2 separate regions of the Homo sapiens genome follow, and region 2 is linked to region 1. Evidence: fine-mapped expression QTL. A gene starts in region 1. The other region holds a variant in brackets. All regions are shown on one strand. Distances are between the middles of the regions.

Evidence for each region. PIP is the estimated chance that this variant, and not a neighbour inherited with it, causes the effect. A credible set is the group of variants that fine-mapping cannot tell apart.
Region 2: its variant is the best candidate, but not a certain one, in a credible set for the expression of GIGYF1 in whole blood (TOPMed, PIP 0.84).

Annotation. Positions count from the first base shown.
Region 1 is chr7:100,691,650-100,696,021 of GRCh38, forward strand. It overlaps GIGYF1 (GRB10 interacting GYF protein 1), which reads right to left and starts at 2,601. Exons shown (of 27, transcript NM_001375765.1): 1 at 2,461-2,601. RefSeq lists silencers at 98-267, 2,030-2,149, 2,320-2,419, 2,860-3,019, a cis regulatory region at 1,675-3,168 and an enhancer at 3,707-4,372.
Region 2 is chr7:100,741,108-100,745,479 of GRCh38, forward strand. The region is part of intron 7 of ZAN (zonadhesin); the gene reads left to right. Among named protein-coding and RNA genes, the nearest start is that of ZAN, 9.7 kb to the left of the region's middle. RefSeq lists an enhancer at 4,169-4,218. The variant C/T (reference allele first, on the strand shown) is at 2,070.

The sequences.
Region 1 (4,372 bases):
GAGCTTTCTCAGCTCAGGGTCTCCTTCTCACAGGCCCCTTCCAGCCTGTCCCCCGCCCTGGCCCTGCCCTCAAGCCTCGGCCTACTTCGGCTCCTCGCCCCTTCCCCACCCCTTCTCTTTCTCGGGCCTGTCTACCCTCACTCCCCCAGCATCTGAATCAATGCTTTTGAAAGACTGCCCCCTGCCGGAGACAAGGGGCGAGGACACGCTGGGCCCGGGTGCTCCAGTAGGCGCCAGGGCGCGCGGGAAAGGGAGCCTGCTCTCTGGGGCTCAGAACTCAAGAGAGAAAGAAAAGACAGAGAACAGGCGGTCCCAGTGCACATTCAGCTAAGAACATTATCTCCTCACTCCATCACCCCTAAAATTAGCTCCAACACAGAGCACTGTGCCTTGGCACAGAACAGAGCCACTTAAACAGAAGCACAGTCCCCAATTCCTCAACACTGGAACAACCGCCCAGCCCCAGGCCTGCTGGAGGGGACCTGGCCCTTTCTCAGGATGGAGATTCTCCAAGCGTGGTAGGGTGAGGACGCTGAGGCTTAAAAAAGAGATGCAAACCCGCATTCTTCGCGGCTGGTCGGTTATCCCAGCTCTCTCCTCTCTGAGCCATCCCAGCAAATCACACCACCGCTTGGCAATTGTCTACAAGTTAACAGTTTTCAAAGGATTTTCACTCTTTACCTCCTGTGATCCCTTTTGCCCACTTGCCCAGCCTTGGGCTCCAGCCAGGGAAAAGAAGGAGGAAGCTGCTCCGACAGCGTGCCCCGACATCCTTGACACTATGCAAGACTGGAGGTGCGCACGGTAGCAGTAACCATCCCAAACTCGCAAGCATTATTCTGTGAGTTTGAAGCCATTTTACATTTGTTAGACTTTCAACATCCTTCATCTAGCCTCCTCCTCTCATCTTCTCTCCTCTAAAGTGGGCTATTTTTCTTTAATTCCCAAATTCCAATAGCAGATGTAAAAGTTAGGGCTAACGCATCAGATCACGAACACAAGACTGATGTGTCCAACAGCAGAAAAAGCTAGTCCAGAAGTTTAAGCACATGGTCCACTTGACTAACCACCACGTGGGACCCTCAGGGCCCCTGGTCCCCAGGCAATGGCAGGGACACCAAGGCCAGGTCTACCCTCAAATCCTTCCCAATGGCACGACAGACCGCTGGGGGACCAAGACCTACAATCTAAGAAAATCAGATTGGAGCTGGCTAGCCTGGTGGAGGGTGGCTAGCCTAGGTCTGCAAAGGGCACAGGAAAGATGGGAAGGAGAAAGAACCCCAAATCCCCCATGTCGGCAGCAAAGGAGAGACCCTTACTGGTACCACCGATGGTGTTTCCATGCCAAAGGCGAGGGGTTGGCGGGGTTCTAAATTGAAACTTCTATATAGACTCGAAGAGGCAGTGCACAAGAGGGTGGGAAAGCTGACGATCTTCCAGAACGACACTTTGAGAGGCAGGAGGGAAGTAAGGCTTGGGTGGCTGGAAAAAAAAAATCCAATCCAGCTAACAAGTCTTTATGTAGCATCTCCTAGTTCCTAGCACTAGGATGCAACAGACCTGGAGTCTGACCGGGAATGCGAGTAATGACTGTATAACAGAGAAGAGAGACGAGGGGCTTTTAAAAAGTTACTCGGAAATTTTTTTGTTTTTTTTTTTTTTTAAGGCAAAGTGTGAGAGCTGTGGCCAGGGAGCTGCTGCACGGAGGGGCATGAGCTGAGAAGGGCCTGGCCTGGGACGGGGAGGACAAGCAGTCTCTGCTAAGGAAGGTATTTCCCGCGGCCGAGCAACTGGGAAGAAGGAGACCCCAATGACCCAGCACTAAGATCGCCGGAGCGAAAGGAAACAGAGGTGAGGAGGACCCAGGCGAGGTGCCTGGGTGGAGGGCAAGGCTTCCATGTTGGCCAAAGTCGTGGAACGCTTGGACCTGGGGAACCGCAAGGCCCAGCTCGTTCCGAGGGGAACCCAAAGGCGCGCTGGGGAGAACTCCGGGAAGCGCGGGGCCCGGCCACCCTAGGACGCTAGGGTCGGGGGCCCCCAGGCGGCCCAGGGCAGGGCTTGGCAGGGGCCCGGGGGCGACCGTTAGGAGCGCGGGGGTGGAAGGCAGCGCGCCGGCCCGGGAGGACGGCGTGCCCTTCAGGGAGGGGCGCCAGGTGCGAGGGGGGCGAGCGGTCGCCCCCTAAGCCGGGCGCCGGCCTCCCGGGGCCTCCCCGAGGCTGGCCGGCTCTGGGGGAGGGTCCCGGCGGCGGGGATGGGCCGGAGCGGGCGGGAGAGCGGGAGGACGCACCGGGCTGCGGCGGCCTCGGGGAGGAGACGGGGGAGGGTCCTCGCTGGCGGCCCGCGCGCTGGCTCCGGCGCTTCTCTAGCTCGCGGGCTCGGCGCGGCCGCCGCGGCGTCGGGGGCGGGCCTGCCCCGGGGCTGGGCTGCGGGCCGGGGGCCGCGGGGCCACTGGGCGCTTACCGCGGGCGGCGCGAGGGTCCGGTCCCGGGGCGTGGGCGGCGCGCGGCGGGCGGGGGCCGGGGACGGCGACGGCGGCTAGCAGCGGGGGAGGGGGCGCTGGCGCTCCCGCGGCGGCCGCTCCTCTGTGTTTGTGTTTGTAGCAAGATGGCTGCCCGCCTCGCACCACGTGACGCGGACGCGGGGCCGCGGGGCCGCCCCTTCCACCGCCGCCGCCGCCGCCGCCGCCGCCGCCGCCGCCGCCGCCGCCGCCGCCGCCGCCGCCGCCGCCGCCGCCTCCCTCCGCGGCTCCGGCCCGCGCCACCTCTCCTCGTGCGCTGCTCGCGTGCCGCGCGCGCCACTGCCCGGACGCCCGTCGCCCCCGACAGCCCCCCCCCTCCCCGCCCCGACACGTGACCTGGGCGCCCGGCTGGTCACGTGACGGGGGCCCCCAGCTGCGGGCGGGATCGGCCCCAGAGCGGCCTCCTCTCCCCCACCTCCCCCGGCCCCGCGACGCGCGACCTCTGGGACCGAGGCCGCGGCCTCCCTGGCGGTCCGGTTTCCTCCAGGAAGCCCGCCTGGATGACAGGAGACAATAAAATCCAGAACCCTTCATCAGGCGTCCTGGGATGTGTGAAATAAGTGGCTCAGGCAAATAAGTTGACTCTCAGGAGCCTCTTTATTTTTTTAATTATTTATTTAATTATTGAGACAGAGTGTTGCTCTGTCCCCCAGGTTGCAGTCCAGTGGCGCGATCTCGGCTCACTGCAGCCTCCGCCTCCCGGATTCAAGTGATTCTCATGCCTTGGCCTCCCGAGTAGCTGAGATTACAAGCACACACCACCACGTTTGGCTTATTTTTGTTGGCCAGGCTGGTCTAGAACTCCTGACCACTCAAGTGATCCGCCTGTCTCGCCCTCCCAAAGTGCTGGGATTACAGGCGTGAGCCACCGCGCCCGGCCCCTATTTATTTATTTTTTTGAAGCAGGGTCTCACTCTGTTGCCCCAGCTGCAGTGTACTAGCCCGATCTCGGCTTACGGCAGCCTCCAACTCCCGTGTCTCAAGCGATCCTCCCATCTCAGCCTCCTGAATTGTTGGGACTATAGGTGTGCACCATCACACCCAGATAACTTTTTTATTCTCTGTAAAGACTGGGCGGGTGGCGTGTCTCATAACATTGCCCAGGCTGGTCTTGAACTCCTGGTCTCAAGGGATCCTCCTGCCACAGCCTCTTGAGTAGCTGGGACTACAGCTGTGTGCCACCACACCCAACTAATTTTTTTAATTTATTGTATTTGTTGTTTGTTTGTTTTCCAAGACAGAGTCTTGCTCTGTCGCCCAGGCTGGAGTGCAGTGGCGCGATCACGGTTAACTGCATCCTGCGCCTCCTGGGCTCAAGCAATCCTCCTGCCTCAAGCACCCTGAGTAGCTAGGACTACCAGGGCACACCACCACGCCCAGCTTTTTTTTTTTTTTTTTTTTTTTTTTTGTAGAGACAGGGTTTCCCCCATGTTGCCCAGGCTGGTCTTGAACTCCTGGACCCAAATGATCCTCCTTCCAAAGTGCCGGGAACTCCTGGACCCAAATGGATCCTCCTTCCAAGGTGCCGGGATGACAGGCATGAGCCGCCACGCCTGGCCTCTCAAAAGCCTCCGTTTCTCTTACAGAAGGATGTTAACACTGCTCTGCACCCAACCCCCGACCCCCAACTCCACACTCTTCCTTGAGTGCTGTAAGAATTAAAATAAGTGAATGTGAAAGGCTTTGACAAGAGAGAAACTGCTATGCAAATGTGAGGTGACTGAAACCCCCTTTGTTTAAAAAAAGGACTTTTCAAGAATGACTCGCTGAACTTTTTCAAGGCTCAAAAGTTCCGCGTATGCTTTCACCTTTTTCTTTGGAAGTTACTCCAGAATGTATACCTTACTTCCCAGA
Region 2 (4,372 bases), 49 kb after region 1:
TGACCCCCCCACCTCCCTCCCGGACGGGGCGGCTGGCCGGGCGGGGGGCTGACCCCCCCACCTCCCTCGCGGACGGGGCAGCTGGCCGGGCAGAGGGGCTCCTCACTTCCCAGTAGGGGCGGCCGGGCAGAGGCGCCCCTCACCTCCCGGACGGGGCGGCTGGCCGGGCAGGGGGGCTGACCCCCCCCACCTCCCTCCCGGACGGGGCGGCTGGCCGGGCAGGGGGGCTGACCCCCCCCACCTCCCTCCCGGACGGGGCGGCTGGCCGGGCGGGGGGCTGACCCCCCCACCTCCCTCGCGGACGGGGCGGCTGGCCGGGCAGAGGGGCTCCTCACTTCCCAGTAGGGGTGGCCGGGCAGAGGCGCCCCTCACCTCCCGGATGGGGCGGCTGGCCGGGCAGGGGGGCTGACCCCCCCCACCTCCCTCCCGGACGGGGCGGCTGGCCGGGCGGGGGGCCGACACCCCCACCTCCCTCCCGGACGGGGCGGCTGGCCGGGCGGGGGGCCGACCCCCCCACCTCCCTCCCGGACGGGGCGGCTGGCCGGGCAGAGGGGCTCCTCTCTTCCCAGTAGGGGCGGCCGGGCAGAGGCGCCCCTCACCTCCCAGACGGGGCGGCTGGCCGGGCGGAGGGCTGACCCCCCCACCTCCCTCCCGGACGGGGCGGCTGGCCGGGCAGAGGGGCTCCTCACTTCCCAGTAGGGGCGGCCGGGCAGAGGCGCCCCTCACCTCCCGGACCGGGCGGCTGGCCGGGCGGGGGGCTGACCCCCCCACCTCCCTCCCGGATGGCACGGCTGGCCGGGCGGGGGGCTGACCCCCCACCTCCCTCCCGGATGGGGCGGCTGGCCGGGCGGGGGGCTGACCCCCCCTCACCTCCCTCCCGGACGGGGTGGCTGCCGGGCGGAGATGCTCCTCACTTCCCAGATGGGGTGGCTGCTGGGCGGAGAGGCTCCTCACTTCTCAGACGGGGCAGCTGCCGGGCGGAGGGGCTCCTCACTTCTCAGACGGGGTGGTTGCCAGGCAGAGGGTCTCCTCACTTCTCAGACGGGGCGGCCGGGCAGAGACGCTCCTCACCTCCCAGACGGGGTCTCGGCCGGGCAGAAGCGCTCCTCACATCCCAGATGGGGCGGTGGGGCAGAGGTGCTCCCCACATCTCAGACGATGGGCGGCCGGGCAGAGACGCTCCTCACTTCCTAGATGTGATGGCGGCTGGGAAGAGGCGCTCCTCACTTCCTAGATGGGATGGCGGCCGGGCGGAGACGCTCCTCACTTCCCAGACTGGGCGGCCGGGCAGAGGGGCTCCTCACATCCCAGACGATGGGCGGCCAGGCAGAGACACTCCTCACTTCCCAGACGGGGTGGCGGCCGGGCAGAGGCTGCAATCTCGGCACTTTGGGAGGCCAAGGCAGGCGGCTGGGAGGTGGAGGTTGTAGTGAGCCGAGATCACGCCACTGCACTCCAGCCTGGGCACCATTGAGCACTGAGTGAACGAGACTCCGTCTGCAATCCCGGCACCTCGGGAGGCCGAGGTTGGCGGATCACTCGCGGTTAGGGGCTGGAGACCCGCCCGGCCAACACAGCGAAACCCCGTCTCCACCAAAACCAGTCAGGCGTGGCGGCGCGTGCCTGCAATCGCAGGCACTCGGCAGGCTGAGGCAGGAGAATCAGGCAGGGAGGTTGCAGTGAGCCGAGATGGCAGCAGTACAGTCCAGCTTCGGCTCCGCATGAGAGGGAGACCGTGGGGAGAGGGAGACGGAGACGGAGACGAGGGAGAGGGAGGGGGAGGGGGACGGGGACGATCTGACTTATTTTTTAAGGATTTTTTTTGTGTTGAGAATCCACTGAGGAGAACAGGCAAGGGTCGATGCAGAGAGGCTGTTTAGGAGGCTTTTGCAAAAATCCAGGCGACACTCTTTCTTTTTCTTTCTTTTTTTTTTTTTGAGACAGAATCTTGCTGTTGCCAGGCTGGAGTGCAATGGCACGATCTCAGCTCACTGCAACCTCTGCCTTCCGGGTTCAAGCGATTCTCCTGCCTCAGCCTCCCGAGTAGCTGGGATTACAGGTGTGCGTCA[C/T]CATGCCCAGTTAATTTTTTGTATTTTTAGTAGAGATGGGGTTTCACCATGTTGGTCAGGGTGGTCTCGATCTTCTGACCTCGTGATCCACCCACTTGGCCTCCCAAAATGCTGGGATTACAAGCGTAAGCCACCATGCCTGGCTGATATTCTTTCTTTCTATGCACCCAAGTCTATCCCTAGCTTCTTTCCACCACCTCCCTGTGCACTCAGCTGAGCTTCTTTCTCTTTCTACTGTTGACTTCTTCCTTTTCTCTCTCACACAACATTCACTTTCTCTCTTAATCTTCTCACACAGCCCACATTTCAACCCCTCACTGAGCCAAGCACTGTAGGTCAAGCATAGAGGGTTCTGCTCCCTAATTTCCTGAGTTTATAATTCTTATTTTTGAATTTAAAAAAATGTTTTTAAAAACTAGGCCAGGTGCAGTAGCTCATGCCTGTAATCCCAGCACTTTGGGAGGCCGAGGTGGGCAGATCACTTGAGGCCACGAGTTCAAGACCAGCCTGGAACATATAGTGAGATCTTGTCTCTACAAAAAATACAAAAATTAGCCCAGTGTGGTGGCACACACCTGTAGTCCCAGATACTCGGGAGGCTGACGTGGGAGGACTGATTGAGCCTGGGAGGTGGAGGTGGCAGTGAGCTGTGATCGCACTACTGCACTCCAGCCTGGGCGACAGAGTGAGATTGTGTCTCAAAATAAATAAATAAATAAAAATAGAGATGGGGTCTTGCTACATTGCCCAGGCTGGTCTCAAACTCTGGGCCTCAAGCCATCTTCCTGCTTCGGCCTCCCAAAGTGCTTGAAGTACAGGTGTGAGCTGCCACGCCCAGCCTATATCTCTTTGTTCTTCTTTTCCCTTAATACTTATCCTTTCTCAATCCATTTCCTCCCTTCCACTTTACCATTTCCACACTTTATTTTATTTTCTTTATTTGTAAAGATGGGGTCTTGCTATGTTGCCCAGGCTGGTCTCGGACTCCTGGCCTCAAGTGATCCTCCTGCCTCTGCCGTATTTTCTTTTCTGTTTTTCCCCATCTTTTCCTCTCTCCACTCCATCAGTGTCCACTTGGACTCCTGCACTCCTGTCTCTGATCTTTCCTGCTGCCTAAACTTTGTTTTCTAGAAGGGCCCTGGCCAGGCGTGGTGGCTCATGCCTGTAATCCCAGCACTTTGGGAGGCGGAGGCAGGTGGATCACCAGAGGTCAGGAGTCCGAGACCAGCCTGGCCAACATAGCGAAACCCGTCTCTACTAAAAATACAAAAAATTAGCTGGGCTTGGTGGTGTGCACCTGTAATCCCAACACTCGGGAGGCTGAGGCAGGAGAATTGTTTGAACCTGGGAGGCGGAGGTTGCAGTGAGCCGAGATAGCGCCACTGCACTCCAGCCTGGGCAACAGAGTGAGACTCCATCTCAATAAAAATAAATAAATAAATACGTACATAAATAAATAAGGCCTTAAGAAGCCCTGGCCCCACCTTCACTGAAAGCCGACCAGCCCTCTCTGCAACCCCTCAGCATTTAGCACCGTGTACCGCGCCCAGCAGCTTCAGTAAATGCTGGTTGGCTTTTTATTTTTCCTTTCTTTCCCTTTCCTTTTCCATCTTGCTCGCTTCCTTATATTTTCTTCACCTTTCACTTCTTTTTCTCCCATTTCTCCTCTTCTGTTTCTCATAGGTCTCCTTGGTTTTTTTTTTGTTGTTGTTGTTTGTTTGTTTTTTGAGACAGTCTCGCTCTGTCGCCCAGGCTGGAGTGCGGTGACGCGATCTCAGCTCACTGCAACCTCCGCCTCCCGGGTTTAAGCGATTCTCCTGCCTCAGCCTCCCGAGTAGCTGGGATTACAGATGCCCGCCACCACGCCCGGCTAATTTTTGTACTTTTAGTAGAGACGGGATTTCGCCATGTTGGCCAAGCTGGTCTAGAACCCCTGACCTCAGGTGATCCGCCCGCCTCGGTCTCCCAAAGTGCTGGGATTACAGGCGTGAGCCACCGCGCCAGCCCGTGTCCTTGATTTCTCTTTCATCATTTTCCCACTTCCTTTCCTTTCCCTTCCCTCTTCCTTCCCGGTTGTTTCCTTTCTTCTCCTTCCTCCCGCCCATTCCCGCCATTCCAGCCTCTTCGCCGCCGCTCAGGATCCCACCTTCGGCAGGAGTGAGCGCGCGCCAGGCAAGACTCCCTTGGACTCGGGCGTGAGCACGCACGCGAGCGCGCTCCCCACGAGTGGCAGCCGCTTACATTTTCTTTTTCGCTACCAGTTGCGTCACCTAGCGAGGTCCACGCTGATTGGCTGTCTGAGC